4 linked regions of the Homo sapiens genome follow. The protein of the gene in region 1 binds, or shares a complex with, the protein of each later gene. Each region holds a gene or a part of one and is shown in the gene's direction. Other genes may lie near its edges. The genes, in order: TMEM216, CEP290, AHI1 and MKS1.

What was found.
Region 2: TMEM216 (region 1) and CEP290 share a complex: the UniProt entries of both Homo sapiens proteins name them as parts of the tectonic-like complex.
Region 3: TMEM216 (region 1) and AHI1 share a complex: the UniProt entries of both Homo sapiens proteins name them as parts of the tectonic-like complex.
Region 4: TMEM216 (region 1) and MKS1 share a complex: the UniProt entries of both Homo sapiens proteins name them as parts of the tectonic-like complex.

Annotation. Positions count from the first base shown.
Region 1 is NC_000011.10:61,388,604-61,395,598, forward strand, and holds the start of TMEM216 (transmembrane protein 216), read left to right. Parts: upstream 1-3,983; 5' UTR 3,984-4,028; coding exon 4,029-4,062; exon of another isoform or gene 4,063-4,076; intron 4,077-4,627; coding exon 4,628-4,729; intron 4,730-5,280; coding exon 5,281-5,373; intron 5,374-6,995. UniProt on the Homo sapiens protein: Part of the tectonic-like complex which is required for tissue-specific ciliogenesis and may regulate ciliary membrane composition.
Region 2 is NC_000012.12:88,048,516-88,055,116, reverse strand, and holds the end of CEP290 (centrosomal protein of 290 kDa), read left to right. Parts: exon of another isoform or gene 1-616; intron 617-703; coding exon 704-777; intron 778-1,370; coding exon 1,371-1,465; intron 1,466-4,683; coding exon 4,684-4,763; intron 4,764-4,956; exon of another isoform or gene 4,957-5,702; coding exon 5,703-5,933; 3' UTR 5,934-6,101; downstream 6,102-6,601. UniProt on the Homo sapiens protein: Involved in early and late steps in cilia formation. Its association with CCP110 is required for inhibition of primary cilia formation by CCP110.
Region 3 is NC_000006.12:135,284,718-135,291,745, reverse strand, and holds part of AHI1 (jouberin), read left to right. Parts: intron 1-1,220; coding exon 1,221-1,323; intron 1,324-6,098; coding exon 6,099-6,101; coding exon of another isoform or gene 6,102-6,120; 3' UTR 6,121-7,028. UniProt on the Homo sapiens protein: Involved in vesicle trafficking and required for ciliogenesis, formation of primary non-motile cilium, and recruitment of RAB8A to the basal body of primary cilium.
Region 4 is NC_000017.11:58,209,228-58,216,255, reverse strand, and holds part of MKS1 (tectonic-like complex member MKS1), read left to right. Parts: intron 1-12; coding exon 13-168; intron 169-1,357; exon of another isoform or gene 1,358-1,417; coding exon 1,418-1,515; intron 1,516-1,868; coding exon 1,869-1,997; intron 1,998-2,386; coding exon 2,387-2,491; intron 2,492-3,165; coding exon 3,166-3,274; intron 3,275-3,821; coding exon 3,822-3,878; intron 3,879-5,233; coding exon 5,234-5,276; intron 5,277-5,531; coding exon 5,532-5,597; intron 5,598-7,028. UniProt on the Homo sapiens protein: Component of the tectonic-like complex, a complex localized at the transition zone of primary cilia and acting as a barrier that prevents diffusion of transmembrane proteins between the cilia and plasma membranes.

The DNA of each region.
Region 1 (6,995 bases):
TCTGTGTCAGGGGTCTCCAAGATCACACCCAGTTTGGATGATTTGCTATAAGGACTTATGGGACCCAGCATACAGGTGTATTCATGCCTCTGATCTATTACAGTGAAATACAAAGCAAGGTCAACAAAGGGAAAAGATACATGAGGCACAGTCAAGGAGAAACTAGCAGCATGCTTCCAAGAGGTCTATCTCAGGGGGAATCACACAAGACGTTCATCATTCCTCCAGCAACAAATTCTGATAACATATGTGCAATGTTGTCTACTAGGAAAGCTCACTTGAGACTCAGGGTCCAAGTTTTATTTTTTTTATTTTTATTTTTTTAAACAGTTATGGTTCACTGCAGCCTCTTCCCTCTACCTCTTGGGCTCAAGCAATCTTCCTGCCTCAGCCTCCGAAGTAACTGGGACTACAGGTGTGCACCACCATGCCTGGCTAAATTTTTTTGTTTGGGTAGAGACAGGGTCTCACTGTGTTGTCCAGGCTGGTCTTGAACTCCTGAGCTCTATTGATCCTCCTGCCTCAGCTTCCCAAAGTGCTGGGATTACAGGCATGAGCCACTGGACCCAGCCCCCAAGGTTTTTACTGGGAGCTGATCATGAAGGCACCCTCTGCCTAACATGTTTCAAAACTCCAGACTCTGAGAAGGAGAACAGGTATTTAGCATAAGCCACATTGTTTGTACAGTTTAGGCACTGTGAGCCACTTTAAACTGGTGGGAACACTACCAAAAGCCAAGTTCCCTTACGCCAGGCAAGGGTCAACCTTGCAGTTGGGCCTCTCCAAAGACAGCAGCCTCAGGTCTGCTATGTTAAGTTTTTTCTGTACAGTCTCATAAGCAAATGGGTTTTTTATTTTTTCCAGGAAGACATGGTTGGTCATACCTCTGAAAATCAATGTAATTCATATTAGCAGAATAAAGGAGAAAAATCATATAGTCCTCTCAACGGATTAAGAGAACACACTTAATAAAATATATCATAAGCCTTTTAGCAAACTAGGATAATAAGGGACTTTCTTAATCTGATAAAGAGTATCTACAAAAAAAATCTATAGCCACCATATTAATGGTGAGATATTGAACGCTTCCCCTGAGGTTAGGAACAAGACAAGACTATCCATCATCACCACTTATAGTCAACATTACACTGCCAGTCCTGGCCAGTGCAATAAGGCAAGAAAAAGAAATTGAAGGTATAGAGATTGAGAAGGAAGTAAAAATGTCTTTATTTACTGATGATGTGATCATGTACATAACAAGCCTCCTAGAAATAATCAATTTAGCAAGGGCACTGGCTGTTGGGACAGTCTTGCATGGGTCCTAAGCATCCCTGCATGTTCTTACTATGTCAAACCAGAAAGTCTGTCTCCTGATACTGAGCACAGAAGCAATTAAGTAGACCAAAGTGACTATAGTGTGATGATAGTATAATTTCTCCCTCCCCAGTGGAAAGGGCCTGGCTTTATTTGCTGCTTGCTAAAAAGGGTACTGAGCCTTTGGCTCTGGGCTCCACCAAGCTGTGGCATAACTCCTTGAGTGCAGCACCATCTGGGGTCATTGTGTCACTCATAGGACTTGGGAGCAGGGGGCCCCCAGGTTGCCATGCTGATGTTCCTGCTGTTTGCCATAAGTAATTTGGCCTCACTGTCAGCTTTTGGCATCTATGAAGTTGTGGCATACTCTGACATAGATTAGCCAACTTTTTCTTAAAGGGTCAGATGGTATTTAAGGCTGTGGGCCATGTGGTCTCTGTTGCAACTACTTAACATTGCCATAATAGCATGAAAGCTGCAATATATAATAACATGTAAGTAAGTGACCATGATGACGTTCTCCAAAGAACTTTTATTTACAAAAACAAGCAGCTGGCCCACTTTCTTTGTTTTTCTTTTGAGACATAGTTTCACTCTTGTTGCCCAGGCTGGAGTGCAATGGCTTGGTCTCAGCTCACTGCAACCTCCGCCTCCCAGGTTCAAGCGATTCTTATGCCTCAGCCCCCCAAGTAGCTGGGATTAGAGGCATGTGCCATCATGCCCGGCTAATTTTGTATTTTTAGTAGAGATGGGGTTTCACCATGTTGGTCAGGCTGGTCTTGAATTCCTGACCTCAAGTGATCCACCCGCCTCAGCCTCCCAAAGTGCTGGGATTACAGGTGTGAGCCACCGCGCCAGGTGCAGCTGGCCCACTTTCTTTCCATATCAGGCTCAGAGCAGGAACTTTTCTAATGTCTCTTGTCTTGCAGGCAGCGAAGATGGGGAAGCAGGATCTGGATTCCTTTCCACCTTAACCTCTGTGCTCTGCGCTTTCCTACTTACCCTAAAGGGCTTCCTTGCCCTCCAGCTTGCAGTTAAGTTGTGTCAGCGGGAGACATAAGCAGAGATCAGAGATGGGAGAAGGGAAATGGAGGTCCCTGCTATATTTATCCACTAGCCTCCTAGAGTGTGAGGGTTCCTAGTGGGAGGCCTTCTATGCACATATTACTCTCCAGCTTCAGGGAATTGTTTCAGGCCCTTCCCTTTTAAGCCTAGAAGTAACAATTACCGCCCCACCACATCCCAATTAGCCAGGGGTACAGCACTTTGCTTAAAGCTTAGTCACTCTTGGCCGGGGGCATTAATCACACCTGTAATCCCAGCACTTTGGGAGGCGGGGGGGGGGGGGGGGGGGGGGGGGGGGGGCGGGTCACCTGAGGTCAGGAGTTCCAGACCAGCCTGGCCAACATGGTGAAACCCCGTCTCTACTAAAAATGCAAAAATATTTAGCCGGGTGTGGTGGGGGGCACCTGTAATCCCCGCTACTTGGGAGGCTGAGACTGGAGAATCGCTTGAACCCAGGAGGCGGAGGTTGCAGTGACCAGAGATAGCGCCATTGCACTCCAGCCTGGGTTACAAGAGCAAAACTCCGTCTCAAAAATAAAATGAAATAAATAAAATAAAGCTTAGTCACCTTCCTCAGGCTACCTGGTTGGAGCGTGCCATCTGTTTCCTGCTTTACCCTGATTGACAACGGGCTAACAGCCAAGTCAAGTCAACCTGAGTCCTCTCAAAACCCTTCTTTTTGCACTCCCCTGCCTGCAGCAACACAGTTTTCTGTTTTTTTTTTTTTTTGAGACAGAGTCTCACTGTCGCCCAGGCTGGAGTGCGGTGGCGCGATCTCAGCTCACTGCAACCTCCGCCTCCCGGGTTCGAGCGATTCTCCTACCTCAGCCTCCCAAGTAGCTGTAACTACTGGCGCGCGCCAGTACGCCCGGCTAATTTTTGTATTTTTAGTAGAGACGGGGTTTCGCCATGTTGGCCAGGCTGATTTCGAACTCCTGACCTCAGGTGATCCATCACCTCGGCCTCCCAAAGTGCTGGGATTACAGGCGTGAGCCACTAAGCCCGGCCAGCAACACGCTTTTACCGCTGCAAATCCGGATCAGGCAGGCTTTGAAGCCCAGCTCACAGGCCGTCTCTTGGAAACTAACTTAGATTTCCACCTGGGAGCACTTTGTCCTCTCAGCTCCCACTGCACCACTTTATGGATCGCGTGGTGACTCGTTTCATTTTATTTATGTGTGTTCCTGGAAAGGACGCTCTATTTCCTTCGTGTCTCTACCTGGTAGGTAAATCGGCCGCAGAAAAGACCAATGCTAACTCCACCCTGCATTTGCAGAGATCCGTCGCTCACACCTTTTCTTGTCTTCCGTTGAAAAAAGAGAATCGTGGGAGTAGGACCTATTTGCCAATCTCCTGGTAACACTATCACAACTGGCCACTTCCGCCCAACGCCCGGTAGTCTGAGAGCCTCCAAGGTCCTCCCCCGCACCCCTGAGGTCCTGCAGACGACGGCGTCGTGGGTGGTCACCGTTATCCCTTAGGTCTGGAGAGGGGACATCCGAGCGAGGGCCACTTGCGGCCAGGCCCGAGCTCGTCCAGCTCCGGGTGACCACAGAGTGCCGCGGGCGGGCAGAGGGGCCGGAAACCCAGGCCGCTTCGTCCCTGTTTCCGGCAGCGCCGCGCTGCTCCGGGAGCCGCTGTGGCAGCGTATGCTGCCACGGGGACTGAAGATGGCGCCGCGAGGTGAGATTCCGGAGGTGTGTGAGTCGCTGGTCCCTTTCCCTTCGGTCGCTCCCTCCCACCTCTGTCCCAGAGCTTGACCTAAACCCTCCATTCTCTAGCGTTAGGGACGTCGCGCCTCCCTGGTCCAAAGCCGGCTTCCGCGGTCCCGCCCACCCTGGGTGCCTGAAGGTCTCAAGGTGCACAGCTCAAATAAACGCAGATCCTTGGCTGGGCCACTTCTAGGCTGGCTCAGGTGCGAATCTGTTGGTCTCTGCGCCCCAACTTCCCCTCCCAAATAGTGACAGAGTGAGATCTTTGAGATGTCTGTCAGCTGCGAGTTACCTCTTGACTTTTATTCCTGAAGCCGAAGAGTCGAGTTTCACGGTGATTCCTAGGAAAGGAGGGAAGCCCCCTCCACTCCCACCCCCGTACCCTCGCCCCCTCATTATCAGCAACCAGAAGTGCCCCTGAGTGGCCGGTCCCATTAGTTGCAGCGTCTAGTTTCCCCAAAGTTAGACACCAACCCATACGAGCAGAGAGGGAGCTGCCTTCCGGCCCATCCCACTTCTCTGTGCTCCTTTTTCAGGTAAACGGTTGTCCTCCACCCCGCTGGAAATCCTGTTCTTTCTGAACGGGTGGTATAATGCTACCTATTTCCTGCTGGAACTTTTCATATTTCTGTATAAAGGTAAGGAAGGCTTGGGGCTTGACGACAGCATCCCTTCCCCACTTCAGCTCAGAGCCAATTCCTACCAAGAACCTTCTTATTTTCCGTTCTTTTCTGCCCCCTGCAGTTCTTTGTCGCTGCAAGGCAGGCCTCCTCATCAGATGGCTTCTTTGAGTATGATTCCATAGGCAGCCCCTCAGCAAGAATTTCTTGAGTTTGAGAAATGTGGGCTTCTCCATTCTGACTCTGCCCACATCACTGCTCTTTGCTGAGCTCCACTGTAAGCCCACTGGTGACCCTTAGAAACTATTCAGTGGCCTGTGTACCCATGTACATCCAATCATTTTGGAGAGTGGAGTCCCCAGAGACTTTTGGAGTTAGGAGTAAAACACCATAATAATGAGCCTGAGTCGCATTGTGAGTTTATGTATCCTGCTGCTGTAATAATGCCCACATCTCACTAACTAGTTCATGGAAAGCTGAGACTGATGTCCTCTTTTTTCCCAAGTGTGTGGCAGTTCTTGTGGGTGCTGTTATATGCTGTTTGCAAACTCTGGCTTTTGTATTGGCAGGTGTCCTGCTACCATATCCAACAGCTAACCTAGTACTGGATGTGGTGATGCTCCTCCTTTATCTTGGAATTGAAGTAATTCGCCTGTTTTTTGGTAAGTGTTGTCCAGAGAATATTTCCACTCCTTATGAGACAAGCTGGTATCTGTAACTTGATTAACAAGAAAAGTACATAACCTAGGTTGACTATCATAGACTGGATCTGTATATCCTATTACTCCGTCTCTGAAGTTTCAAGTTGCTGCTTCATACATTGGGTCAAGATTTACCTGTTTGTTGCTCTGTAAGGCTAGAGATGGGCAATAGAATGGGATATTAGATGATTCCTTCCCAGCTGCCTAACTGCAAGAAGAGTGCTTGGTTCTTCTCACTAGTATTCTTAGGGGAATAGGTTCAGTTGTAACTCCACGTCAGGGCAGGCAGTGTATCCTGTACAGATCAGTACTAAGATCCCTAACAATTCTCTGAATAAGGATCTCTGTAGGAGTTTTTTGTTTTTTTTTTTTGAGATGGAGTCTCACTCTGTCCCCAGGCTGGAGTGCAATGGCACGATCTCGGATCACTGCAATCTCTGCCTCCCGGGATCAAGCGATTCTCCTGCCTCAGCCTCCTGAGTAGCTGGGATTACAGGCGTGCACCACTGCTCCCAGCTAATTTTTGTATTTTTAATAGAGACGGGGTTTCACCATGTTGGCCAGGATGGTCTCGATCTCTTGACCTTGTGATCTGCCTGTGTCGGCCTCCCAAGGTGGTGGGATTACAAATGTGGGCCACTGCACCTGGTTGGATTTTTTTTTTTTTTTGAGATGGAGTCTCACTCTGTCACCTGGGCTGGAGTGCAGTGGCACCATCTCGGCTCACTGCAGCCTCCGCCTCCCGGGTTCAAGCAATTCTCCTGCCTCAGCCTCCTGAGTAGCTGGGACTGCAGGCGCCTGCCACCATGCCCGGCAAGTTTTTATATTTTTAGTAGAGATAGAGTTTCACCATGTTGGCTAGGATGGTCTCGATCTCCTGACCTCATGATCCACCCGCCTTGGCCTCCCAAAGTGCTGGGATTATAGGTGTGAGCCATCACACCTGGCCAGATTTTGTTTTTTAAACATTTATTTATTTGAGACAGGGTCTCATTCTGTCACCTAGGCTGTAGTACAGTGGTACGATCATAGCTCACAGCAGCCTTGAAGCCCTGGGCTCAAGCAGTCCTCCAACTTCAGCCTCCTGAGTAGCTGGGACCACAGGTGTGCGACATCATACCTGGCTAATTTTGTGTTTTTTGTAGAGACAGTGTCTTGCCTTGTTGCCCAGGCTGGTCTGAAGCTCCTGGCCTCAAGCAATCTTCCTGCCTTGGCCTCCCCAAGGTGCTGGGATTACAGGCGTGAGCCAACATGCCTGGCCTGTAGGACAAGTTTTATAACCCCAGAAATACAGAGCAAAACCCTTATTTGTTAGAATATGTCATCCCTGAAATCAACGTTAAAGCACAAACTTAGGAACAAAATTACTTGCAACATATAAGAAAGGATAAAAGAAGGCTCACATAAATCACTAAGGAAAAAACAAAATAACTTTAAAAATTGGCTGGGCGCAGTGGCTCACGTCTGTAATCCCAGCACTTTGGGAGGCCGAGGTGGGTGGATCATTTGAGGTGAAGAGTTTGAGACCAGCTTGGCCAACATGGTGGCCGTCTCTACTAAAAATACAAAAATTAGCTGGGTGT
Region 2 (6,601 bases), on another chromosome or scaffold:
TTCCAGTGGTTCTCCATCACCCTAAAATAAAACTTAAAAGTTCTTTTCATATCCCAAAACAACATATGAGGTCTGGCACCCAGTTTTCTTCCCAATCTCATCTTCTACTACTTTTCCCTTCATTTCATTCACAATGTTTTAACCACAGTAACCTTCTTTCAGTACTTTAAACAATCCAAACTCGTTTAAGCGTCAAGTCCTTATACTTGTTTCCTTTGTTTAGAATACTGTTCACCCAAATATTCTCATAGCTTGCTCCCAGACTTCATGTCTCTGCTGAAATAGAGGCTCCTTAGAGAGACCTTCCCTAACCCTAACCCTAACCCTATACTACTTGCCATCACTCTTTATCCTCTTACCCTGGATTATTTTTTCTTGATAGCTCTTCCTACCATCTGGCACTATATTACATCATATCATATTAAACACACATTCTTTGTGCTTCCCCACTAAACAAGGACCATGCAAGATGGAACATTGCCATTTTGTTCACTGCTGTTAGCCTCTGTGCCTAGGACAATGCCAGTTATGCAGTAGTTACTCAATACTTGTTGAATGAATGGTGAATAGAACATAGAAATTTGCCTATGCGTGCTTTTGAAAACCATATTTTAATATTACGCTTTGTTAAAAATGTGTATCTTTATAAATCCTCATATTTCCATGGCAAACCTTATCTTCTAACTTTTCATTGTCCTCAAAGATTAAGATTCTTAAACATGTTCCTGAAGGTGCTGAGACAGAGCAAGGCCTTAAACGGGAGCTTCAAGTTCTTAGGTACATCATGTATTCATATGACTACTTTGTTTTTTTCTTTAAAAAAAAAATTATTAGTTTTTATATACTCCGAATTGCTACAACTAGAGACAAGCATTTTTCGACTTTACTGCCTAACAGGCTTATTAGGTCCTTATTTCTTCCCTCTAATGCTAATCACTCTTTTTCATAATACACACTAGAAAAAAAGGATAAACCCAACTCTAAGTTTCCAGTTTGTAATTTAGTTTAAACTTTTCTAAGAGCATAGAATGAGTTAAACCTTAGCTTCCCAGAGGAAAATACTAATGAAAGAGAACAAGTAATTTTTTTACTTTCAGGGGTCTCTGTAGCCTGCTTTCATTAAGCTCCTCTTATAACGAAACCACACTTGCAAATGCCATCAGGTCAGATATTAAGAAAAACGTGAAGGCTTTTGTATTCCAGGCTTTTTGTTTGAGAATGGTGACATTGTAGCATTGAGAGTAAATGTTTACTTCGATAAAGGCTAGCTTGTTCTGATTACTGTACATCACTAGTTCATAAGAAATGCCCATATATTTTATGAAGCAATATCTGCTTTATTTTTTTAACACATTATCATTGTGTTCTAGATTAGCTAATCATCAGCTGGATAAAGAGAAAGCAGAATTAATCCATCAGATAGAAGCTAACAAGGACCAAAGTGGAGCTGAAAGCACCATACCTGGTAATGTATTTTAAAAAACATGTTAGCTACCCCCAAGTTTTTGAATTTGGGTTTGCCTTTTTTTTTTTTTTTTGGCTCAGATTTCTGATCATTGTCTCCCTGTAAAATCGAATTCCTGATAAGCTTTGGGTCTTTTGTCTCTCTGTGCTATTAATATAAAAATATTCCCATTTTTCTCTTTGTGTTGTTTATACTATAGAGTAGCAAGTACCCAAGTGTTCTTCTCTTTGTTCTCCATCTGGGTGTTACAGATTTAATCACAATACAGTGCTAAGCAATGAATACTAAATCTGTTGCTTCCAGTTTCTAAGTATAGGCTCTTTCAAGTCCTCTGAACATTTTTAAAAACTGCAAATAAGTAAATACTGCCTATATTTTTTTCCGTTTACAAAGTAAAAAGAAAATCTTTCTGCTCCCTTCCATTCCCATTCAAAAGTGATTACTAATCATTCCTCATTCCTGCATATACATACACACATATTTTGTATACATATATATCACACATATGCATACATGTGTTTGTATGTTCATATGTACAATGTACATATCCTCATTATTTGTGGATTCTGTATTTTCTAAATCACCTCCTCACTAAAGTGTGTATGTAATCCCAAATCAACACTCGCAGCACATTTGCAAACATCCACAGAGCCTTGGAAAGTTTGAATAATCCAACCTACATGTCCCCAGCAGAAGTCCAACAAGGCAGTGCTCAGTATCCTCATTTCAGTTTTCATAGAGAAATGAGCAGAGGATGGAGACAGTAGAGGGCAGCACAGCATAGTGCAAGAAGCTGTGGCTCTGGGGCCTGGTGGAAGGGATTTGAATCCCAATTCTGAGGCTTGTTACTGCTCTAGCCTTAGGAGAGTCATGTAACACTTCTGAATCTTGTTTTCTTATGTAAATAAATAGAATTTACCAGGATGAGTTATCTTTAGGATTTAAGATTATCATCTGTGTGAGATATGTAGGTGTATGTATATATATGCGTGTATGTATATATATGCGTGTATGTATATATATGCATGTCTGTACATATTTCCCGTAGCAGCAGTGGTTTGATATTCACTAATTGGGCTAACTTTATAGACCAAAACTACTATGGATAGAGAATACTTTGTTTGCATTTACGTATATATATTTTCTTGGCAAGTAACATAAAATTGAACTAATACTATACACATTTCTAGCATATTTGCCTTTAACAGTTTATCATGGACATCTTTTGAGGTCTGTTCATAAATTATCTCATCCATTTAATAATTCCATAGTGTATTATTGCATGTATAAGCACATCGAACCATTTATGTTTTGATGGATATTTAGTTTGCTTCCAAGTTTCTGCTTCTATAAAATATGATTAATCTATTGACCTAATTATGCCATTGTGATAGGATGATAGAGATGCCATTCTCTCCAAAGGATTATACCAATTTATATCTGAACTATCTTTGACTATCTCTTGTAGCTTTTTCAGTATGCTATGTAGTCCTATTACTAATTTGTAATAAAAGCCATCATGTGTGAGTTGTACTAGACACTATGCTAATTGCCTTACAAGCATTCTATATTTACAACCATATATGATAGGTATTACTGTCTCCATTTTATGTGATAAACAAATTCAAAGTGGTTAAGTAACCATTCCCTAAGCCAGCTAGGAAATAGAGGCAGGATTAAAATCTAAATGTATGAAACTCCACAGCTCCTTGGCATTCCTAGTCCTTAACCCGCTATGCTATGCTACGTCTTGGTAACTAAAAGTACATATTAAATACTCTCAAAATATGTCTCATAGCAGCCAGCTTGGTATGTACACTAGACACAGTATTAATGCTGTTGATGTGAGGAAAATTTTATAATTTTCCTTCCATCCATATACTAACCAGGCCCAACAGTGCTTAGCTTCTGAGATCAGAGATCAGGTGCATGTGCATTAAGGGTCATATGGCCATAGATAGTTCTCTAATCTTTCCATTCCTCAGTTTCTTAAGGGAATTTCTGAACCCTCAAAATTCCTTATTTCCTAAGTAGACAGATTACCTGTCATTTTTCAAAGATTAAGGCTTAAGATCAAACCAGAACTGTTTTGGAAATTCTAAATCACTGTCTATATAAATGGCAAGATAACTTTTAAGATATTTATACCAAGCCCAGTACAGTAGCACACCACACCTGTAATCCCAGCACTTTGGGAGGCTGAAGTGGGTGGATCACATGAGGTCAGGAGTTCGAGACCACTCTGGCCAACATGGTGAAACCCTGTCTCTACTAAAAATATAAAAATTAGCCAGGCATGGTGGCACTTGCCTGTTATCCCAGCTACAAGGGAGGCTAAGGCAGGAGAATCGCTTTAACCTGGGAGGCAGTGGTTGTTGCAGTGAGCCAAGATTGCACCACTGCACTCTAGCCTGGGCGACAGAGTGAGACTGTCTCAAAAAAAAAAAAAAAAAAAAAGATACTTGTCCCAGCCATGAAAATGTTTGCTGCCCCTTACTTTCGCAAACTTTTAGTATTTTATTATTTTTCAATGGCTGTAAAATATGACTTATTAAATGTAGTATAATATAAAGAAAAGAGATATCTAGCAAAGATAGCATTAAAGCAAAAATCCTATTTGCCTGCTGATAAAGTTAGAGGTGTTAACTTGGAGGGTGAATCCAATAAATTAGAACTTTTGTGCTATATTTGGAGACTTTTGTTTTCCTACCAAAGTATCAGGGCTATGTCTTACTTATCTTTGTATTACACAGCCTGCATGACACGTTTTGCACATAGTAATTGCACAGTAAATGTGTAATAACCTACATGGAATAGCCAGTGTTGTGTTGGATAGCGGGAGCATTTGGCTAGCTTATGGTTATAGTCCCTTACCCAACAGTCTGCTTTTCTTCTGTTGTACTTTTAGTACCTAACAAGTTTCCCTGGCTTTAGGATTTTTTCCATGTAAAATTTCTATCATGTGAAGAAAAAATAACTTGGCCTACACTTCTAATACCTAGCACATACCTCTTTCTGCCTGCTATGAAATTATAATACTTGATGGAGGGAGGCAGCATTAAGTGTTTACATCCTGAAGTATTTCAGCCATAACATCCAGTGTTTTCCAGGTTCTAGGTTTCATAAAATGTATCTCTGTTCTCTAGAACAAATCCATTACCTTGAACTCATTCGTAGTGGGAAAAAGCTGAGTCTAATTTGTATGACTTTTTCAACAGATGCTGATCAACTAAAGGAAAAAATAAAAGATCTAGAGACACAGCTCAAAATGTCAGATCTAGAAAAGCAGCATTTGAAGGTAATATTTAATTATATTTTAGTATCGTTTTGTGAAAACAGCTGTTGAAAACTATTTTCATTACCATCTTTAACTACGTATCCTAAAAAATTCAGTAATAACATCTTATATTTGACCTTTATATTGCAAAGTTAATTATGTTCATCTGACTATTCCTAACATATTAGAGTTAACAAAAAATTCAGACTCAACATAGGATTAAGTAGTAAATTTATTTTTTAATTGTAACAAATATATGCCATTAGTATGTTCTTAAGTTTTGGGTCACATTGGCAACAGTGTCTTTATTTTTTTTTTGAAATTCTTTTCAGGAATCCTAAGGTTATAGTTCCCTTAAAAAAATATTTGCTGTTTTACCTCTTTTAAGACTGTAAACAGGACAAAAAGGCATGGATATGAGAATTAGCTAGTGATCACTGGCTATTCTAAATAGTCACTAAGGCTTGAATTGTCTCTTCACCAGATGCCTGTCAGAAGTCCCAAAGGTTTCCCTGATCATATTAATAACTTTATAAAAAATTGATCATTATTCATTAAATATTAGATATTAGTAAGGAAAATATAAATGAAGTCTAAACCAAAACTCTTAACCAGACTAACTTCAATGTTATGAATCACAAAATCTTTTTGATTGATTGCTCTATTGACAAGCTCTTATATGCTTTTAGAGAAAGATTAAGTCCCATTATAAGAGATGATAAATTTTAGTCAAAGACTAGAACACAACTTACAGAATACATAACTGGACTTGACAGTTAACAACTTAGTTATTTACACTGTACAATGGAACAAAGAAAAATCTTAATTCTTCTGCCTTTATTGCTGTATTTGACCATTCAGGAATACTTTGGCTTTCATATTTACAATTAAATCTCCTTGTTCAAACGTAAAATATGTATATTTCCTATATGCAACTTTTAAAGATAATGTTTCCATTAGGAGGAAATAAAGAAGCTGAAAAAAGAACTGGAAAATTTTGATCCTTCATTTTTTGAAGAAATTGAAGATCTTAAGTATAATTACAAGGAAGAAGTGAAGAAGAATATTCTCTTAGAAGAGAAGGTAAAAAAACTTTCAGAACAATTGGGAGTTGAATTAACTAGCCCTGTTGCTGCTTCTGAAGAGTTTGAAGATGAAGAAGAAAGTCCTGTTAATTTCCCCATTTACTAAAGGTCACCTATAAACTTTGTTTCATTTAACTATTTATTAACTTTATAAGTTAAATATACTTGGAAATAAGCAGTTCTCCGAACTGTAGTATTTCCTTCTCACTACCTTGTACCTTTATACTTAGATTGGAATTCTTAATAAATAAAATTATATGAAATTTTCAACTTATTATAAAAGTATATACTTGAAGACTTGTTACAGCCATCAAATAGGCAGTGAGCTCTGGTGAATTTCTCTACATTCATAATGCTTTAAGTTTTTTAAAGAATATGAGGGTAAATTCAGCAATTTTAAGATTTAAAATTGGAGTTTATATATACTTATTTATACATGTGTTAAGATTCTCAAATCCTATGATATATACACAGATGTAGACATACACACATATAGGTTATGAGGTTGAGCCGTATGTTTTGTTAAATATCTAGCAAAATTAAATTGAGCTTAAACTATTTAATTTTGAAAATTAGTGACATTAAATTGTTGTCTTTAAATTACCACTCAGTTATAGTGAAGAGAATCCAGCCTTTGTCCAAGCTTAGGAGCTTACTATTACTTATGTTTTTATGGCTAGAGATTAAAATTAATTTGCTGGTTTTTAATAAAATTTTGAATAGGTACTTGAAACTGGAAAATTCATTTCTTCACAAATGGTAGAAAACATATTG
Region 3 (7,028 bases), on another chromosome or scaffold:
ACTGTCCTTTCTTCTTTGTAATTTCTGACCTTTTCATTCTCAGTCATCTGACTTCATTTCACTTACTTACACATTTCTTCATTAGTCTATTCAGGGTGCCACAGAGAATACCACAGACTTCATTGCTTAAACTACAGAAACTTATTTTCACACAGTTCTGGGGGCTAGAAGTCCCAAGATCAAGGTGCCAGCAGGATTGGTTTCCCGTGAGGCCTCTCTTCCTGGCTTGGAGGTGGCTGCCTTCTTGTTGTGTCCTCACATGGCCTCTTCTCTGTGCAAAAAGAGCACGCTCTGGTTTCATCTTTCCATCTTCTAAGGACTCTAGTCTTATTAGATTAGAACCCCACTCTTCTGACCCCATTTAACCTTAGTTATCTCCCTAGAAGCCCCTGTCTCCAAATGCAGTTACATTAGGAGTTCAGGTGTCAACATGTGAATTTTGGGGAAATATCATTTGGTTCACAAGAATCTCTATTCAGTCCTATTTAATACCTGATTTTGAAATTCTTGTATCTTTTTCAAGCTCCTCTGTGGTGTTTCTCACCATTCCTAGACAACTTAGAAGATACTCTGTTCCATTCTTCAGTTTTCCTTTTTTTTTCATTGTTTTTGTGTTTTCTTTCTCCTAATATAAAGTGCATTACTACACACTCATCCACAAAACATTTGTTTTATATTTTGCTATTGCCATTGAATCATTTGGAAAGCTACATTGTTCATTCCACAGATCAGGATGTTACAGCTTTCTTATATATAAATTTCCTTCATTTCTTTTCTTGTCATGAATGAATGTCCTATACTTTTGTGTGTGTGTGTGTGTGTGTGTGTGTGTTTGTGTGTGTTTCCACCTAAGTTGATAGAACTTTCTGATTTTTCCCAGGCATCTAATATTTTTCTGAGACAGATGAAATTTATTTTATTCTGTAAGTCCACAGATAATTGTTTAAGATTTTGAAATTTATTTTATTCTTGTCCCTTTATCATGGCTAAGAAGGAGCCCAACCAGCCAAAGGTTTGTCTGTTAACGTTATTTTAAGCAATTCCTTGTCTCTCATCCCCGTGTATACTCATTAGTTCTGCCGGATGTTTTTCTCTGTCATATCCTCACATTTATCCCCATTTTTGTTTCCACTGCCACGGCCCTAGATCAAAGCCTCATCTGAGCTTTTAGCTCAGCTCTCTTTTACTGGCTCCTTGTTTCTGATCTTTCCCTCCTATAGTTCTGAAATGAGAAAAGAACAGAGCCATGAGGACCAAGGACACATAATGGATACACGGATGAGGAAGAACAAGCAAGCAGGCAGAAAAGTCACTCTAATAGAGGTAAGGGGAAAACCAATAGAAAGTTGCGCTATGTTGTCAACAGGAAAAGATTTAGGAAAGCATGGTCAGCAAGGACAAATACCAGAGAGAGGCAAGTAAAATAAGGACTGACAAGTCCCATTTGGGATCTGTAACCGGGAGGCCATTTGCGACCTTGGAGAAGATAGTTTTGATGGAGAAACCTGGAAGCATAAATCAGATTGTCTCCAGCCCAAAGGGAAAAAGACTGTAAGAATAGTCTTATTCTCTTTAGAAGCTGGAATTTAAAGGAAAGAAAAAGCTAGGCAGTAACTAGTGGAAAACACAGGGTATAGACAAGATCTTTATAAAGAGGGGAATGACAAGAATATTTACAAACTGAGAGGAAAGAGCCACTTGAGAAGGAGCCATCTGCGGTGTCGGAGCAGAGTGATAGTCCCTGGGGGCCTAAGGAACTCCAGAGGATTACAGCTCAAGAGTGGGCCACTTTTTCCACCGAGATACGCCAGTGGGAAAATGTGTTTGGATGGTAGGGGTTGGGGTATAGGGAAGGCCTGCCAGAAGGCCTTTTCTCTATTAAGTAGAAGTGAAGTTTCTGTTCAAGGTGAAATGTTACGAAGCTGTTCATGTCCACATTTATAAATTTGTCATTTTGTAGGAACTAGAGTCAAAATTTTCATATTTTTATTTTTCCATTGTAGAAAACTAAAATCTAATTGTACAGAAGCATATAGATGCATAGTTATGTAATCATGGGCTAAGGAATTATTTTTAACCTTGATACCAGAATTGGAAAACATTATAAAACAGATTCTTAAATAATGGAAACTTTAAAATTATGCAGGTCAAAAAGAAAAAAAGTCATAGAATTTTTAAATGAACAATAACCTGGGATGGAAGAGATTTACCCATGGAAGAGTAATACTCTTTTTTTTGTTGTTGTTGTTGTTTTGAGACGTCTTGCTCTGTCACCCAGCCTAGAATGCAGTGGTGCAATCTCAGCTCACTGCAGTCTCCACCTCCCGGGTTCAAGTGATTCTCCTGCCTCAGCCTCCCGAGTAGCTGGGACTACAGGCACGTGTCACCACACCCAGCTAATTTTTGTATTTTAATAGAGTCAGGGTTTTGCCATGTTTCCCAGGCTGGTCTTGAACTCCTGACCTCAAGCCATCCACCTGCCTCAGCCTCCCAAAGTGCTGGGATTACAGGCGTGAGCCACCGCACCTGGCCAGGAGTAATACCCTTAACAAATAAAAAGCTCTAAGAGGAGCTTTTTCAACAAGAAAAAAAATACACCAGTAGAAAAACGGGACAAAGATATACACAGGACATTCTTAAAGGATTCTTAAAGGGATAAATATAAATGGCAACAGACATATGAAAAATGTTTACCATCCATTGATCAAATTAATGAAAATTAAAACAATAAAATGAGATGGTATTTTACCCTTTCAAAATGACAAGTTTCAAACTTATGATACATACCTAGTATTGATGAGAAAATGGGATGTGGATTCCCGCTTACACTGCTGGTAATACTATAAGATTGATCCATTCTTTGTGAAGTATAATTAGGTAATATGTTAGGGTTTTTTTTTTGTTTTGTTTTGTTTTCAAAATGTGCATCTCTTTGACCTGACAGTTCAACTTCAAGGAATCTCTTATAGGAAAGTATTCAAGTATACATGGAGAGATTTAGTTAAAAGGCTACTCCTTCGAGCAGTGTTTTTAAAATAAAGGGTTGATTAAAATATGAAATATTTATATAACAGAATATCATATGGTTATTCATCATATTATGGAAGTATTTTTATGGACATGAAAAGATGTTTATGATTTTTAAGTAAAAAATGATTATAAAATAGTTTATATAATATACATCAAAAGACATGAATAATTATCTGAGTAGTAAGATTATGGTAATTTTTTTCTTCTATTTTAACTTTGTGCATTTTCTAATTTATCTACTTACTGTATATTTACTACTTGATCATTTCTTTCAAAATGAATGTAATTTTTAGAAATTTTCTAATACAGCGTGTTGTTTCTACATTTAAAGAAACCAAGGTTTCAAAGTTACAGCTACAAAGTACCTGAACTAGGAATTAATCTTCTTGCCCCAAGTTCAGGGCTGTTTCTCTTACACATTGCTTTGTATATTAACTCTGATTAGATGGCCAGTGCTTCCAGTCAGGGGCTATTATTTAATACATACTCACATTTTTTTCCTCCCCTGCACTTAGCCTGGTGTCTTGCCACAGAAGTAAACCTTCAGGAAAGATCTATTGGATTGAATGTCTTGTGGGGTAAGGTCCAGGTTTTTTTGTTGTGTTTTGTTTTTGTTTTTTTGAGAGGGAGTCTTGCTGTGTTGCCCAGGCTGGACTGCAATGGTGCGATCTTGGCTCACTGTAACCTCCACCTCCTGGATTCAAGTGATTCTCCTGCCTCAGCCTCCCGAGTAGCTGGGATTACAGGCACCCACCACCACACCTGGCTAATTTTTGTATTTTAGTAGAGATGGGGTTTCACCATGTTGGCCAGGCTGGTCTCAAACCCCTGACCTCAAGTGATCACCCGCCTCAGCCTCCCAAAATGCTGGGATGACAGGCATGAGCCACCATGCCCGGCCACGGCCCGGTATTTTTATGAATCTTATTCCCCAGACATAACATACACACAAACACTAACCTAGTTTCATACTTGTTTTCATAAGCTTGCTAAGAAGAATGTTTCTTTCTCTTTTCATCACAAGAGCCTTTAAAAAGGGCTTTGCTTCGTTACTTTCTTCCTCTGTTAGATTACAGAGATACTTTATGAGAAGATAGAGAAGGAATGGCTTTGCATTTATCCTTGTCTTTTGGTTAGATGTCTTCTCCTCCCTCTTTCAGCACATCCCTGCTGTCTCCTAGCTTTCAGGTCCTTTTGCTGTTAGCGTTCATCAAGCCAGTGTGCCACTCTTGATTTTCCTCCCATCGTCAGGAGGAGCCGCCAGTGTCCGAAGGGTGCACATGACCATCTTTATTCTGTCTCTTTTCTCCCTTTTATGCGCCATCTTTGTCATTCTCTATCCAGTGTGTTTCTTCCTCTTCTGAGTCTGAATCATTTCCCTCAAAGATGTTATCTTTGCTGCCTACTTTAGATTTTTCGAGTTGAATTTCTCTTTGGGTTCTTCTCCTGAAGGTCCGTCTGGCTTCTCTGTTTACTTCTCACAGTGCAGTCACCACCTGATTGATTTCACTTGTCCTACATCTTCTGCACGTGCAGGATCCATCTCACTAATTTCCAGCTGTTCTTCTCCCCTTCTCCCCCTTCCCTTTTCTGTTTTTCTTCTTCTTTTTTGTCCTCCCACTAACATGAACTCTTCCTCTCACTTTGTTTTGCCTTATTCTTCCTGTAAGATCCTTTACCCTCCTCACTGCCTTTTGCAGAAGTTTATATGTCTCTCTGTGACTTTAGCCCAGCCTTCATTGAAACTACTTTCTTTTCCATTTTTATCAGATCCTAATTTGGTGAAAGTTTTACGTACTTTTTCTGTATATGTACAGGGAGACTTTTTTTGCCCCTAGTGGTATTATACCTTGGCATGCCGTATTCTGTACCATTTTTATACTCAACTTCATGTGCATTCATGAGCTTCACTAGAACGTATTTTTGGGCTTCTATATATGATACAAGCTTACCTGGAGTAGCTCTGTTTAACAAATTTAAAATCAAGAAACATCAAGTGATAAAGAATTTTTGCCCCTCATGTGTAAATGTGTTTTATATGAAAAGATAGTGCGACCATTGATTTAAGATTGGGCCTGTTCCTTAAAGCACAGGTGTCCCCTACACCTCCTGTGCCCCCAGGGAAAGCCCTTCAGGAATGGTTAGCCATTGCCCTTTCTTGCCACAGTGTGCCAGCTGTCACTTTTCTCAGGAGTGGTCGATGGAGTTGACTGCTACCTTAACCAGATTTGCCATCGTTCTGAAACTGCCGTGTGTTTTCTAAGGACAACCAGGTGTTAAGCCTTTCTCTTTAGAAGAAGGACAGTAACCTTTCTGTGTAAGTCCAGAACTTATCAATGCTGTATGAATGATTGCATTAAAAAATGTTAGGTTTAGCCCCACTAATTTATCTCACACTAGTTGTAGTGCAAATACTACATGCTGTCTAAGGAAGCAACTTCTTGTTTCATCTGCATATTGGTTCTTGATTTTTATGAATTGTATAATTTGTTTTACATCAAAGCCACATCTGGATGCTTGATTGTTACTATCTTGGTCAAAAATGAGACAGCCCATTTTTTAATTGATTTGAAAAATGTAATAACCTAATTATATAAAAGTAGGCATAGCCATAGACTAAATGAAAGAATGCTATTTAATAAAATTATCTGTATCCTTCCGAATCACTAACCCTGAATATCATCCATGAGGACTTTTTTTCCCATTCAATGAAGAATTTCATATACTCTGATTGCCTGCTCTTCATTTCTGGAAGTTACTTATGGTTTGGAGTTTTTAGTGTCTATATTTGGGGATTTTATTTCTTTCTTGCTTACATTAACCTGTCAATGCAGGAGCAGGCCTTAAACAATTGCTAATGATACAAAAAGATGCTAACAATGTTTGAGAGGCAAACTAGAAGATAGGAAATTAGTATTTTGGTCTTTTTTAGTTGTGTTTGTATGTGTTTGTGTTTTACACAATGTCCTTTATTACCTGTGCTGTTGCCTGAGCACACTAAGATTTGGTTGTAGTCAGAAGACATTATTCAAGTTTATTTAGTACATTTTGTGTATTTTTCTTTCCAGTAAAGAATTGAAGAAAAGTTAAGAGCTGCCGAAATGCACAGAGGTGAAAATGACAAACCAAATGGAATTTCTCTTCAGAGTTCAGAATTTTCAGATACTAAGGAGGAAGAAAGGATCCACTACTTCTTGTTCTTATGAATGACTCTAGAAAAATCAGAATCAAGTTGTGGGTGGAAAAATCAACGTGGCCTTTGAGTTCAGTTGTTATAAACCATTGTGACTATTGTTGGTCAAAGTATTGGTACTTATATTGTTAGTAATTGCATCATAATTACATTACCAGTGTTGGAAAACTAATGAAGAAAACACTGTAATTGCTACTCAGCAAATGTGAATAAAAGGTGTTTGCGTTATTAGGATGTCTGTTAAGTAATCATTTAATATTATTATATTGGTAATGGTTGTATGTGTGATGCTATGCCCAGAATATGAAGTATCTGTTTTTGAAATTCACTTTATTTAAAAGATAAGCAGCTGACTGGGCACGGTGCCTCATGCCTGTAATCCTAGCACCTTGGGAGGCTGAGGCAGGTGGATCACCTAAGGTCAGGAGTTCAACAACACCAGCCTGACCAACATGGTGAAACCCCATCTCTACTAAAAATACAAAAATCAGCCGGGTCTCATGGCAGGCACCTGTAATCCCATCTACTGAGGCAGGAGAATTGCTTGACCCAGGAGGCAGAGGTTGCAGTGAGCCAAGATCACGCCATTGCACTCCAGCCTGGGGGACAGAGCAAGACTCTATCTCCAAAAAACAAAAAAGATAAGCAGCTTTAGAATATGGCGCATTCAAAACAGTCTCAGTAACAAAGACATTAAAAGAAAACAATTTACTTTCTAATTAAAATTTTGTGTTTCTTAAGATCAAATCATATAGGTAACTTCATAGACCTAAATTAAAAGTGATTTTTGGCTGGACTGGCAACA
Region 4 (7,028 bases), on another chromosome or scaffold:
TGGTAACCTCAGTTTGAAGTAGATCTGTACCAAAATGAAACAGCCTGTCAGAGTCCTTTGGATTATCAGTACCGTCAGGAGATCCTGAAGCTGGAGAATTCGGGTGGCAAGAAAAACCGACGAATCTTTACCTACACTGACTCTGATAGATACACCAATTTGGAGGAGGTATTGTTCTTTCTAGGGTCTCATAGCTTCCATCTTTGCTTCCTCTAGCTTTTTTGCCTCACTGAGTTCTGTGTGTTATGTCAGAGCCTAGTAAGGGGAGACAAGTAGCCTGTCTAGGAACTGCTGTGAGCTGCTGCTGCTGGCAGCCAGCCTGGAATAGAATGGGCACAGTCTACAGGTGGTGAGGCTGCTGCTCCCTTCTCTGCCTGCTAGAGGGCCTGGGGGAGCTGCCAGTATCTCTGATTATATGCTTGCAGAGTGCATACTGGGAGAAGTAACCACTGGGCTTGACTTCCTCCATGCATCATGAAAAAAGACAGGTAGTGGAGTCTGGAACAATATAGATAAAATTCATCAGGGGATTCAGCCCAAACTCTGAGTATATGGGTTTGAAGAGGAATTCAGTATAGCTATGGAAAATGGCTTATGTCCTCAATTTGCCTATGACAAAAATACCCTTGTGACCTTGTTTTACATTTTCTTCAGTCACTGCATTTCAGTTGCTTCTGTCTTCTCAGTAAGATTTTAAGCTCCTCGAGGGTAGAGCCTATTTTTTTTATTTTTGTCTATGACTCTGTAGGTCTCTGCAAGGAACAGGTATTCAATAAATGTTTTTGAAAGATTGACGTGCTTTCATTATTAGAGCTGTGGATTGATAACATTAGCTGGGCATGGTGGCATGTACCTGTAGTCCCGGCTACGTGGGAAGCTGAGGCGGGAGGATCACTTGAGCCAAGGAGTTCAAGGTTGCAGTGAGCTATGATAGCACCACTGCACTGCAGCCTGGGTGAGACCCTGTCTCTTAAAAAAATATATAAATTAAATAAAATTTGGGTTGTCTGTTTTGGAAAAGCAAATGAAAATGCAGTTAGTGCTCAGTTACCATGTGAGGATTTCCCACAAAATGCTTGTATCCCATTTGGCATTTTCTAACCACCTTGTTAACTTCAACATCTACCAAGCACACTAACCCAACTTTTTGTTGGTTTGTGCTCAGAGAATGCAGACTGATTTTAATATTAACATAAATAACTCCTTTTTAAAATCCAAAGGCAAACCATGATGTGGTAGAAATCTTCTTTGGGTTGTTTGGCTACTGCTCCCTCCGTTAGCATGTATAATTGTGAGGTGGCGGAACCTGTGGGGTTCAGGTCCTGGATGAGGTTTCAGGAGGAAGACTTCCCTTCAGGTACTTGGCTCCATGTGGCCCTGACCAGATGGCGTACACAGGGCTGCTTGCTTTTCCCAGCACTGTCAGAGAATGACCACTGCAGCCAGCGAGGTGCCTTCATTCTTGGTCGAGCGAATGGCAAATGTCAGGCGTCGCCGGCAGGACAGGCGAGGGATGTGAGTGCGGGCATGGGATGGGGGACAAGCTTTTACTTTTTATTTCCTAAAGTTGGGTAGTTTTGCATTTTTATCAGTGGTTATATATAGTATTCAAGTATTACTTTGTAATTAATTTAAAAAATAAATATAAAAATATAAAATATCTTCCTCACTCTTCATGTGGACATTTTTCCAAAGTGCCTCAGAGAGAGGGAAGGGATGTCATTTCTGTTTGTCAAATATTTTGGCTCTTAAAAAACAAAACAAAACAGTATGTCCACTAGCTCAAACTTCCCATTCTGAAGTGGCTCTCCACTGGGGTGCTCCATTGGGGTGTGCCAGGGAAGTGACCTTTCTGTGGTGTCTCCCAGGGAGGGCGGCATCCTCAAGTCACGCATCGTCACCTGGGAGCCCTCAGAAGAGTTTGTCAGGAACAACCACGTCATTAACACCCCTCTTCAGACAATGCACATCATGGCAGACCTGGGGCCCTATAAAAAGTGAGTGGCGCTTCTCACTGCCAGCTTAGAGCCTCATCCTTTTCTCCTCTCACCAGCTCTCCCCTTCCTGTTATTATCATCCTAGGTTATAGGGGAGGGAGGGACTTTTTCTTCCTTCTCTTCTTAGTTATGAGTGAAGCTTCTCACTGCCAACTCAGATCCTCATCTTCTTCTCCTCTCACCAGCTATCCCCTTCCTGTTATCATCCTGGGTTATAGGAGAGGAAGGGACTTTTTCTTCCTTTTTTTTCTTAGTTGTACTTGGAAGAAAGTTTTACCATGACAGCTCTCCCTATAGCCTCTGTTCTCTCCCCTGCAGTGGGCTCAGTATCTCTTCTTGTTTCCCTGAAGGACCATTGACCTCAACCTTGGTGTTTTCCTGATTTCTAGGCTTGGCTATAAGAAGTATGAACATGTCCTGTGTACTCTGAAGGTGGATAGCAATGGTGTGATCACAGTAAAGCCTGACTTCACGGGCCTCAAAGGACCCTACAGGTGAGGAGAGGAAGAAAGGGGTAGTGGAGACTGGCATTCCTTCCCTTGGTTGCACTTTTTGTCCCTAGTCAACTAGACTGTCAGAAAGTCCTTCATCTGTTCTAACTTTTACATTCCCAGGCAATGGTTCGTATTCTGTTCCAAGTCATAGGGCCTTAGAAAACCAGGGACTCCTTTCTCAGAAAATGTGCAACTGCACCAATTTGAAAGGGATCACTTCAGTGGTACAGTTAAATGACAGTGATTCTCTGTGCTGCTGAATGTAGGACCTGACCAGAACAGAGTGGGGTGAACTCAGCCAGGCTTTTCCTGTGGGCTGACTGTTCCTCATCTCTGTATCTTGGAAATGACAGAAATGTAAATTAGAAATTATCTGGCCCAACCTGTCCATTTTTCAGGTGAGAGAACTGGGTGGCAGGAATGTTGTGCCTTACAGTTTGACTGTAACTTCAAGCCAGAAATGGGCCCAGAACCTATACTTTCTGAGTCTAGTCTGGTGCCCTCTCTGCTTTACCCTTTTGTTTCTCTCTCCTGGTCGTCAATACAGCCACTTTTATCATCATATACTTTAGTGAGGTGTATGGCCCCTGATCGCTCATCCCTGGGCTGGGAGCTATCCCAGGGCCCATCTCTCATTATTAGAGTTGCTCCTTTCTGTGGTTTTGACCTTACAGGATTGAGACGGAGGGGGAGAAGCAGGAGCTGTGGAAATATACGATCGACAATGTTTCCCCCCACGCACAGCCGGAGGAGGAGGAGCGGGAACGGCGAGTGTTCAAGGATGTAAGCGCAAGTTCATTCCAAGTATCCAAGGGATGAGCCTCAGTGCCTGGAGCTGAGACCATTTCTGAACTTGATGTCAGCAGTTGCTCGGGAAAAGCCTTGCCCTTCATGGCCCCTTCTGACTTAGGCAGCATTGCTGACATATCAGACAGAAGTTTTTGATCATATTATAATAATAACAATAACCATTTATTTGAGCATTTACCATGTTCTGTGCTAGGTACTTTACATACCTTATTTCCTTTAGTCTTTACAACAACCCTTTGAGGTGAACACTTATTACCACCTTATAAGTGGGGAAACCGAGATTGAGGAGCTAAGTAGTCTGCCCAAGGTGGCATAGCTTGTAAGGGCGAGAGTCAGGATTCTGCCCCAGACCAGCTGACTCCAGGGCCTCTGCTTCACGGTAAAATGGCGGTGAGTCAGGTGCTTACGCCTCCAGCTCTTGCTGACCCTTCCCACTATTGCTTTTCTTCTTCCCATTCAGAACTGAACTTTGGTCTAGCTTGGGTTGCATCTTGAGTTTTGGTTTGGTTTGTTTCCTCAGCTTTATGGCCGGCACAAGGAGTATCTCAGCAGCCTCGTAGGCACCGACTTTGAGATGGTGAGTAGCTTGGCTTCCTGCAGCACTGTGAGCTGTGTTTAGCCGGAGCATTCTGACTGTGGATGAGTTACACTACCTCTCTTAAAGGCCCAAAGGTATACTCTACAGTGTGAAAAGGAAGTCAAAGAATAGCACATATAGTCCTTGTTATGTGTTTTGCAACATTGCATGTTGATAGAGAACTGTTAATGCTAAGAAAAAGGTCTGAAAGGCTATGCACATGCTGTGGGTGGCTTTCTCTGGGGAGGGTGGGATTAGATGTGGTAGAAGGGTAGTGGGTGGTGAGAGGGATATATTAGGGATTTTTGCTTTTTATTCCCTAAACTTAGGTAGCTTTGAATTTTTATCAGTTGTAATGTATTTAGGTATTACTTTATAATTAATTTAAAAAATAAATATAAGGATGAAAAATGTCTTCTTCACCTTTCATGTGGATATTTTTTCAAAATACCCCATAGAGAGGCAGGGGTGCCATTTCTGTTTGTCACATATTTTGGCTCTTAAAAAATATAGGCCTGATGCGGTGGCGCATGACTATAATCCCAGCACTTTGTGAGGCCAAGGTGGGAGGATCACTTGAAGCCAGGAGTTTGAGAGCAGCCTGGGCAACATAGTGAGACCACATCCCTACAAAAAAAAAAAAAAAAATTAGCAAGGCATGGTGATACATACCTGTAGTCCCAGCTACTCATGATGCTGAGGCAGCAGGATTGCTTGAGCCTAGAAGTTTGAGTTTGCATTGAGCTATGATCACACCACTGCATTCCAGCCTGGACAACAGATCAAGACCCTGTCTGAAAAAAAAAGAAAGTGGTTTAGTTCAGCTATTCTGTTGTGCTGTTCTTTGTCTTTTCTCATTCTAAGAGTTCTATCTCTAGACCTGGAAACAAGGATAGAATTACTTCCTGGTCTCCCTCTCTTTCTCTGAAAAATTAACCTTCACTATTTCCATATTGCATAAGCAACAGATATTCAGTATTTAAAAGTTAGATAAGACATGCACAAATAATTAAAAAAGAAAACTCCCTGGTTTCTTGACCTCAGCCATCTAAAGGGAAGAGGGCGTTCTGGCTTCCCATTGCACACCACAGGACAGTTGCTGTTGCTTGAATAATTTCCCATAGTGCATTGTCCTCACTGCCATTTAAATTATGTACTTTCCCCCTACATTGTGAATCTTAGGAATGAAGGAAACAGATCTGTGGAGAAGTGTCAGGGTGGGGAGAAAGTGCAGTAGTGACACCCAGGGCCTGACCCCTAGTGGCAGGTCGTCTGCAGATTTGTAGATGGGGCTGGAGGAGAAGTGCCAATTCCCTCCAGGCCTGCTGATCCTTTCCCACTTCTCTTCACCTTAGACTGTCCCAGGTGCCCTCCGGCTCTTTGTAAATGGAGAGGTCGGTAAGTGTCTTGCTAGCATAGATCTCTTGATGCTTAGGCACGTGCCTAGATGGAGCTGTGAATAGTCTCCTCCACTCTGGTAGAGGCCTTGTCTGCTGTACTTGGGAAACTCAGTGGTGAGTCTTTCCTGGAAACGCAGAGGGTTCCTGGCCCTCAAAAGACTTGCTCTCAGGGTGTGTAGGCCCCTCAGGATTGGGTTGGGTGCTAAGGGTGGTAGGAGAAAAAGCTAAAATAGCTTCCTGTTTTCTCTCGTAGTTTCAGCCCAAGGCTATGAGTATGACAATCTCTACGTCCACTTCTTTGTAGAATTGCCAACTGCTCGTAAGTAATATTCTTAAGTCTCTCCTTTTATACCCATTCAGACAGATCTAGAGGCATTTGGTCAGGCTTCCTTTCCCACTCCTCTGCTGAAACTGTTACTGTTCTTTTCAAGGTCATAGATCACATCCACTTTACCAAACCCAGTGGAGACTTCCCTGCTTTCACCTCGCTTGACCTTCCTGAAGCATTTTCCAGAGCCCACTGTGCTGCATGACACACTTCTCTGGCTTCTGGCTCCACACTTCTCTCTCCTATCTCGCTGGTGGCCCCTCATCCTTCTTGGGTGATGCCTTCCCTTCTGTTGATCTTAAACCGTGAGAGTACCCACAGCTAAGCCAAGGCCTTCTGTTACTCTCTGTCTGCAGTCTTCCTGGGCAACGTCATCCATCCTATGGCTTAAATACCATCAATACGTCTCAGACTCCCAGGTTTCTGCCTCTAGCCTTAACCTTTTCCCTGGACTCCAGACTCATATCCAGTTACCTCTTTTGTCATTTCTGTCTAACATGACCAAAAAGAACTCTTGATTCCTCCTCTTCCCTCAAACCTCTCCTCCCTGGTCTTCCCCATCCTAACAGAATGGCAGTGTCATCTACTGAGTTGTTGATGCCAAAAACCTAGGGAACATCCTTGATCCCTCACTTTCCCTAGCTCCCTATAGCCAGCCAATCTGTCAACAGTTCCTGTCCGTTCTGTCTTCAAAAGCTGTTGTGAACCTATTTGTTCTCTCCAGCACCCTACACCAAGCCACCACCATCTCTTGTCTAGGCCAGTGCATTCAACTTCTGATGTATCCCCCTGCTTCCTGCCTTGCTCCCATTTGCCGTTGATTTGCCACAGACACCAAAGCCAAGTTGAGCTTTAAAAAATGTAAACAAGTTATGTCCCTTTTGAGCTGAAAACCCCAACAGCTTCCCCTCCCACTTAGAGTAAAATGTAAACTTGATACCCTGAATGAGCTGGCCCCTGCCTATCTCTTCCATACAACCTTCCAGTCATTCTTCCCAGCCAGGTTCATTCCCACCTTGTAGCCTTTTAAGGGCCGTTTCCTTTGTCTGAAACCCTTTCTGCCATATCTTAGCATGGCTGGTTCTTTCTGAGTTTAGGTCTCAGCCTGTGTCGCCTCTGAGAGGCCTTCTCTTACCACCCAGTCTAAATGAGCCTCCCAATCACTCAGTCCCTTCCCCGTTTTGTTTTTAGTATAGCACTCATCACTACCCAATAGTCTCTTGTTGGTTTGGTTTTTGTCTGTCTCCCTGCTTCCCCCAGAATGTCAGCTCCATGAGAGATGGGGATCTTTTCTATCTAGTTACCAAGATACCCCTAAGATATACTAGCACATAGCAGGCACTCAGTAAATGGTAAATGAATGATTGATTGTGTGAATAAATGAATAAAGAAACTGTCCGCCCCGTCTGGGAAGTGAGGAGC